Homo sapiens: one gene and its partner. The protein of the gene in region 1 purifies or fractionates together with the protein of each later gene. This does not show direct contact. Each region holds a gene or a part of one and is shown on either strand. Other genes may lie near its edges.

Evidence for each region. The genes of interacting proteins can lie anywhere in the genome.
Region 2: the proteins of CEACAM16 (region 1) and ODF2 purify together in Homo sapiens (affinity purification with mass spectrometry; one large-scale study listed by BioGRID and IntAct). This does not show direct contact.

The regions. Positions count from the first base shown.
Region 1 is NC_000019.10:44,697,541-44,701,290, reverse strand, and holds the start of CEACAM16 (cell adhesion molecule CEACAM16 precursor), read right to left. Parts: upstream 2,141-3,750; 5' UTR 2,031-2,140; intron 1-2,030. UniProt on the Homo sapiens protein: Required for proper hearing, plays a role in maintaining the integrity of the tectorial membrane.
Region 2 is NC_000009.12:128,497,506-128,501,155, reverse strand, and holds part of ODF2 (outer dense fiber protein 2), read right to left. Parts: intron 2,744-3,650; coding exon 2,581-2,743; intron 2,156-2,580; coding exon 2,030-2,155; intron 1,090-2,029; coding exon 901-1,089; 3' UTR 1-900. UniProt on the Homo sapiens protein: Seems to be a major component of sperm tail outer dense fibers (ODF).

The DNA of each region.
Region 1 (3,750 bases):
TGGGGCCCGGTTTGGGTACCAGGGTGGGTGTGGCGGGCACCGGCCAGAGGCCGTGACCTGGGCAGGCCTCCTGGGGCAGCCGCCTAACCCTCTTTGTGCCGAGGGCCTGGATTTGGTACTGGGAGAGGAACCAGGTCACCGAGGAGAAGAGAGGAAAAGTAGGGGAAGGTTTTCGGGTAGTTCTTACCAACCACCCAGGCCCGTGGCCTCCTCAGAGAGCCTGGGAGTCACCAAGGAAGAAAATCAGTAAAAGGTGACTGCACCTTTCCCAGCCCCACCCAGTGCAGGGGACCTACAGGTGTTGTCTCAGCGGATGGCAAAACAACCCTGTAAAGTGGGCACCTTTAGGACCCCCCTTTGCAGATGGAGATGAGCTAGGTGGGGACTCCCACTTGTCCGGGTTCCTGCAGGGAGAGGGGATTTGAGCCCTGCTCTGTGTGCAAACCCAGACAGAAGGGCAGGAAACTGTATGGCCACATGCTTTCTTTGGGGCTCTCCTTCTTGTTGGCTTCCTGCAAAGTGCTCAGAAGTTCACATTCTCTTTCTCCCACTTCGGAGGCCTTGTTTTCCCCTCTCTGTCAAATGGGCGTATTCGGAGGCTTTGGGGCCAAGGAGAGCTGAGTTTTGACACCAGCTCTGCACTTACCCAAAGTGGGGCTGGGGACAGTCCCTTGTTGAGTCTCCATTTATTATTCTGATAAATAGAGATGATGGCCGGGTGCACTGGCTCATGCCTGTCATCCCAGCACTTCGGGAGGCCAAGGCAGGCGGATCATTTGAGGTCAGGAGTTCGAGATCAGCCTGGCCAACATGGCGAAACCCCATCTCTACTAAAAATAATAATAATAAAAATAGCCAGGCGTGGTGGCAGGTGCCTGTAGTCCCAGCACTTTGGGAGGCTGAGATGGGCAGATCACCTGAGGTGAGGAGTTTGCAACCAGCCTGACCAACATGGCGAAACCCCGTCTCTATTAAAAATATAAGTTAGCTGGGTGTGGTGGCTAACGCCTGTAATCCCAACACTTTGGGAGGCCAAGGCAGGTGGCTCACGAGGTCAGGAGTTCGAGACCAGCCTGGCCAATATGGTGAAACCTCGTATGTACTAAAAATATAAAAAATTAGCTGGGTGTGGTGGTGTGCACCTGTAGTCCCAGCTACTCGAGAGGCTGAGGCAGGAGAATCTCTTGAACCCAGGAGGTGGAGGTTGCAGCGAGCTGAGATCACACCACTGCACTCCAGCCTGGGTGACAGAGTGAGACTCTATCTCAAAAAACAAAAGCAAAAACAAAAAATAAAAGTTAGCCGGTCATGGTGGCACATGCCTGTAATCCCAGCTACTAGGGAGGCTGAGGTAGGAGAATCGCTTGAATCCAGGAGGTAGAGGTTGCAGTGAGCCGAGATCCTGCCACTGCACTCCAGCCTGGGTGACAGAGCAAGACTCCATTTCAAAAACAAACAAAAAAATAGAGATGATATGGACCCTACTTCAGGTTTGTTGACAGCAGTTAGTGAGAGGCTACAAGTCAGGGATTTAAGCCAGAGCCTGGTGGACGTGGGTCTGATTGGTATGCCTGTTATTAAAAGTATAGGCTCTGGCCGGGCGTGGTGGCTCATGGCCGGACGCAGTGGCTCATGCCTGTAGTCCTAGCACTTTGGGAGGCCGAGGTGGGTGGATCAACTGAGGTCAGGAGTTCAAGACCAGCCTGGCCAGCATGGTGAAACCCTGTCTCTACTAAAAATACAAAAATTAGCTGGGTGTGGTCGCGGGCACCTGTAATCCCAGCTACTTGGGAGGCTGAAGCAGGAGAATTGCTTGAACCCTGGGCAAAAGAGTGAAACTCCATCTCAAAAAAAAAAAAGTATAGGCTCTGGACATAGTTCCACTGTTTCCTACCTCCAGGACCCTGGGCAATTTATGGACTCTGCCAAGCCTCAGTTTCCTTATTTGTAAAATAGGGAAAACAATAGTACTCACATCACAGGGCTGTTGAAAGGATTAAGTAGATACACATGTGAAGTACAGTACTTACCACGACTGGCGCAGAGTAAATGCTCAGTAAATCACTCATTCACTTATTGGACAAATACTGAATGAGCACCTATTGTTTGCCAGGTGCTGTTCTAGGCGCTGAGGATGCAGCCGTGCACAAGACGGATGAAATCCCTGCCCTCAGGGGGCCGACATTTGCGGAGTAAATAAAGGAAAGGTAAATATCTTCCACGTCAGATTGAAAAATAAAGTCAGAAAGGGGATTTGCCATTTTATTTTTTGTAGAGATGGGATCTCGCTATGTTGCTCTGCCTGGTCTCAAACTCTTGGCCTCAAGTGATCTTCCCACCTTGGCCTCCCAAAGTGCTGGGATTACAGCCATGAGCCACTGCCCCTGGCCTGGTTTGCTACTTTAAATTGGGGTGGAGGGAGGGTAACAGGGAAGGTGTCTCTGAGATGATGCTGGGCAGGAGCCGAGGGGGTTGTGGTGCCAGAGCTGCTGATAGCTGTGTTCTTATGACCTGCATCCTGATGGCTTCTGAGTCCTGGTTCCTCTGAGGCCTCTGCAGCCTGCTTCCGGGCAGGGGGCCACACCTGTGCTCACCTGTCCTGGTTTGCCTCCAGCACTGTGTCCTGGGCTGCCCTCGTGGGGCAGGGCTCTAACAAGGGGGAGAAGGCCCTGAGGAGGTGCGGGTGAGGCCAGGTGAGAGGCACAGAGGATGTCCTGGCGCCTCCTGCTCCCCTCTCCCCACCTGTGACCTCACCTCACTCTTCTGCGTCCTGGCCCAGAGCACTGGGACCTCATCCCAGTATCAATCAGGATGCCTCCCTGATGTCCCTGGGCACCTCTCACTCACCTTGTCCCAAACTGACCTTGGCATCTTCCCCCAGAAGTGTATCTTCCCCTGGTGCCCTTATCAGGGAAGGCGCCACTACCCACCTCATCGCTGGGAAAAGAGACCTGGGGCCTCATCCCTGATGCCTCCCCCTACTCCCCGAACACGCCACCCCTTCTGGCAACTGACTCTACGTATATCTTCTCTCCCTCCCTGAAGCCCCTGCCCTGGTCTAGGTGACCACTCCACCACCCCACCTTGCCTGGGTCCTCCTGTCTCCCCACCAGCCTCCTCCCTAGTCTCTGGCCCTGGTCTCCCCGACTCCCATTGCCCCTCCACATGGCAGACAGAGGCTCTTTCCAAAACAAAAACCTGCCTCTGCCCCTCCGTGCTCAGAACCTGCTGTGGCTCCCCAGTGCCCTTGGGAGGAAGCCCAGGTTCCTCACTGTAGCCCAGGAGGCCCTGCCCGGCCTGACTCCTGCCCACCTGACCAGCTACATAGAATACCACTTGCTTCCGGGAACCCTCTGCTTCAGTTCTTCTGTTTCACTTGCACTCTACCCAGAATATCCCTGCTTCCCTCTGCTCTATTCCACTGCCTTCCCCAAACCCTCTCCTCCAGGAAGCCCTCCTGGACTTCAGGGCCTGGAATTCCCTGTCTCAGCCCTGACTGCCTTGGGTTCTCGCTGTCTGGGGCTGGGTCTTTTTCCCCCACTGGCCTGGGAGCCTCAGCTGGGCACGGCTGGGCTGTCACCACTGTGTCCCCAGCACTGCCCAGCAAATCACCTGGCACAGAGCAGAGGCTCACAGCATGTTTGTGGAACTGGACACCAGGTGTGGATGACACAGAGAGAGGAGTCTTCAGAGAGGCTCAGGTTCCTGGTGATCTGCTGTCTGCCTGCGGAGTGTGACCAGGCCGGGCTC
Region 2 (3,650 bases), on another chromosome or scaffold:
GTTCCCTCCTGACAGTTCATTGATTACAATGTGAAAGCACCAACCTGAGCTAAAATGAAATGAGAAGCCTGATGTTTCAGGCACCAAGTACTTTAAAAATGTCTACTGGCTGTCCTGCAGCATTTTACTTAATCATTTTTTAGAGGAGGGATGAGGACTGGTTGGGTAAAGGAAATCATCAAATGGAGCCTTAAATAACTGATTACAAAAGCTTTTTGTAAAATCACACAAATATTTCAAGAATAAATGCATTCCAGAGATACAAATCAGGCCAAAAGAAACAAAAATCAATGAAATTGGCATTACACTTGTAAAAGGCCAAATGGACACAAGCCCTCGAGGGTCTATTGTGAAGTGCTTGGGGGCAAGTGGCCTCAAAGAAACTTGGGAGTGAGAGGTTTGCACTGAGCTTGGGAAGGGAGCCTTGGGAAAACACCACACTTGTGAAATCAGAAAAAAAAAAAAAGCAAGTGATGGTGCTTACAGCCCAGGACGACTTCCTGCTGGTTTAGGTCAGAAAAAACCTGAGAGAGATTCCTAAAACAATGAGGGCTGTAAGGGGACTGGTGGAAAAAATCCAGTGGAAATATTTTCTCAGGAAAGGAAGGAGCAAAGTCATGGTAAGTTAAAATGTGGTACCCTAATGTAGTAGTAAATTTAAGGCCTGTCGAGGAAATTTTAACACTTCCAACAGGTGACTATATCAGGAAGGAGAAAACCAAGTGCTTCCTGCTTCACCTTCTGCTGCTTTTGGGACTTTTCTAGAGCTAGTAGCTAAGGACAAGACCCTGAACCCATTTTTTCACTGGGAGAGGAAAACCACCAGGCTTCTCAGCTATGGCTTGGCAACTCTGGAGTTCCTATGGCTTCCATCAGGGCTCCAGGCCCTGATAAGTGGCCTCAGGCAGGAGGAGATCGGGAGCGGATGGGAGAGCTAGTCAGGAAGGTGGAATAGGGACCATCCCCAAACACGTTGGCGTATGATGATTTGAGGAACTGGACGTAGTTCTGCATGCTGCGGTTGGTGCTCTCGGACTGCTCCAGGCGATCTTTCAGGTCTTGCAGCCGGCTCTGGTAGCGGCGGTCCGCCTAACGAGGAGAAACAGAGCATGGGCCCGCTGTGCAGTGTCCAAAATAGAAATCCATAGAGACATAGGGACTTTCTTAGGAGTTGCCAGGAGGTTTGGGGAGGCGAGTGTGGAGTGACTTCTAATGGGTATGGGGTTTCTTTCTGAAAATATTCTAAGACCAGGCACAGTGGCTCATGCCTATAATCCCAACACTTCGGGAGGTCAGGACGGAATGATCACTGGAGCCTAGGAGTTCAAGACCAGCATGGGCAACATAGTGAGACTCTATCTCTACAAAAAATACAAAAATTAGCTGGGTGTGATGGTGTGCGCCTGTAGTCCTAGCTGCTCAGGAGGCTGGGGTGGGAGGACTACTTGACCCCAGGAGTTTGAAGCTGCAGTGAGCTATGACAGCACCACTGCACTGTAGCCTGGGTGACAGAATGAAACTCTGTCTAAAACAAAACAAAACAAAACAAAACAAAACGTGAGTCTGGGTGCAGTGGCTCACACCTGTAATCCCAGCACTTTGGGAGGCCATGATGGGCAGATCATTTGAGATCACGAGTTGAAGACCAGCCTGGCCAACATGGCGAAACCCCATCTCTACTAAAAATACACACAAAAAAGTAGCCAGGGATGGTGGCACATACTTGTAATCCCAGCTACTTGGGAGGCTGAGGGTGGGGTGGGGATCATATGAAACCAGGAGGCAGAGGTTGCAGTGAGCTGAGATCGTACCACTGCATTCCAGCCTGGGTGACACAGGGAGACTCCGTCTCTAAATAAATAAATAAATATCTACCCAGGATATCCTTAAGGGATAGAAAGTGATTGGAGAAAAATAAAACCATGTCATATTCACAAAAACAGTAACAACAAAACACCTTGGCCCACAGGCCCCACAGAAGCTAGGTCTGCTGCCCACTCTCCTAGCCCGGCCCACCAGCCTGACTCACATCATCACGGCTCCGCCGCAGCTGGCTCAATTCCGTTTTGGTTCTGCTCAGCTGGGTCTCAAGGTCCAGGATTTTGTTCTGGGCTGCTCGCTCCTTGGAGAGTGCGTGCTCCTTGGTTTGTTCCACCTGCACATTCAAAGGCCCAGACATGAGACTGGTTTACCGGACATGGGGAACACTTGGCAAAGAGAAGGCTGGGCCCACTATCTGGTCTTGCAGACAGCACTTGCACATCATTGTGGACTGTGTTCTCTAGAACGCTGGGGCAGGAACTAACTATGGGGACTATGCCTGCCACCCAGCTTTGCCAGTGCTCCAGGAGTCACCACCTAAGATGTGGTAAGCCTATGTGAGGCTCAAGAGGGTAGTGAGTAAATGAGCAATCATCAGATATCAAGTGCTGAGCCCTCTACGATGAAAATGTGATCCTTACAACTAATTCATGAAGCGGGTACTACTGTGTGCCCATTTTTCAGATGGAGAAATAAGCTGAGAGTTTAGGTGATTTGCCCAAGGTCACAGAGCTAGTCATTCATGAAATCGGGACTGACCTGCCTCCTCGCATCTTCAATGGCACTCTCCAACTGCCTTGCCAGGGTCCCACATTCCCGTGTTTTCTCCTCCAGCCGCAGCTGGGACTGGTGGATTGCCTCCTCCCTCTTGGCAATCACCTGTAGGAACTCGATATTCTGGGCACTGGTCGCCTCCAGTTTCCTAGGTGAAAGCACTCAATCAGATCCTGGGCATACCCCAACCTGTCATGTTCCACCCCGCCAGGGGGCTGCCAGCCTCTCCTGGACTGGGGATCTCATCATGCCAAGAATCTCCAAGGAGCCACAGGAATAAGCCAAAGAAATCTGCAGATCAGCAAGGCGACCAAAGAACTGTGCAGCTGGAGCAACTGGTTAGAGAACAGAGTGAAGGGTGGGAACGCAGAGACTGACCGTGGGCTTTGTTAAGTGTGGATAGCATCACATGGAACACAGCAACTTGCAGCTCAGAAAAATGGTACCATTATTATCCCCACTTCAGAAATGAAGAAACTGAGCCTCAGAGAGGGGAATTCATTGGCCTGAAGTCAGCACAGCTGGCAAGTCTGTAACCAAAACCTAAGCCTGCAACTTCTGCTGTTCACTGCTGCCTCCCACAGCAAAGGGACTTCAGCTACACCACTCAACATCTTGTGTGACCAGCCATAGGGCAAATATGGCCATCCCGATATACACACACTGTCCTCAGTGCACTTCCAGGATGCCTTCCAATTTAAGGAGCTCTGCAGGGCCTGGGGGATCTAGCTGCCATTTCCAAGGCTGGCAGGGCAGAGCAGAGGTGGAGCCTGGAAGGAGCCCACTTGGTTGTAGCCTCCTTGCAAGTGCACTGGCCACCTGAGGCACTTAGGGCCTCCTAGGATGTCAGGCACCTTCACCTCTGAAACTAAGGCTGGGACCAGGGCTGGAGGACTCTTGCCCACCTCTTTTTTTTTGAGATGGAGTCTTGCTCTTTCGCCCAGGCTGGAGTGCAGTGGTGCTATCTCGGCTCAATGCAAGCTCCGCCTCCCGGGTTCACGCCATTCTCCTGCCTCAGCCTTCCGAGTAGCTGGGACTACAGGCGCCCGCCACTG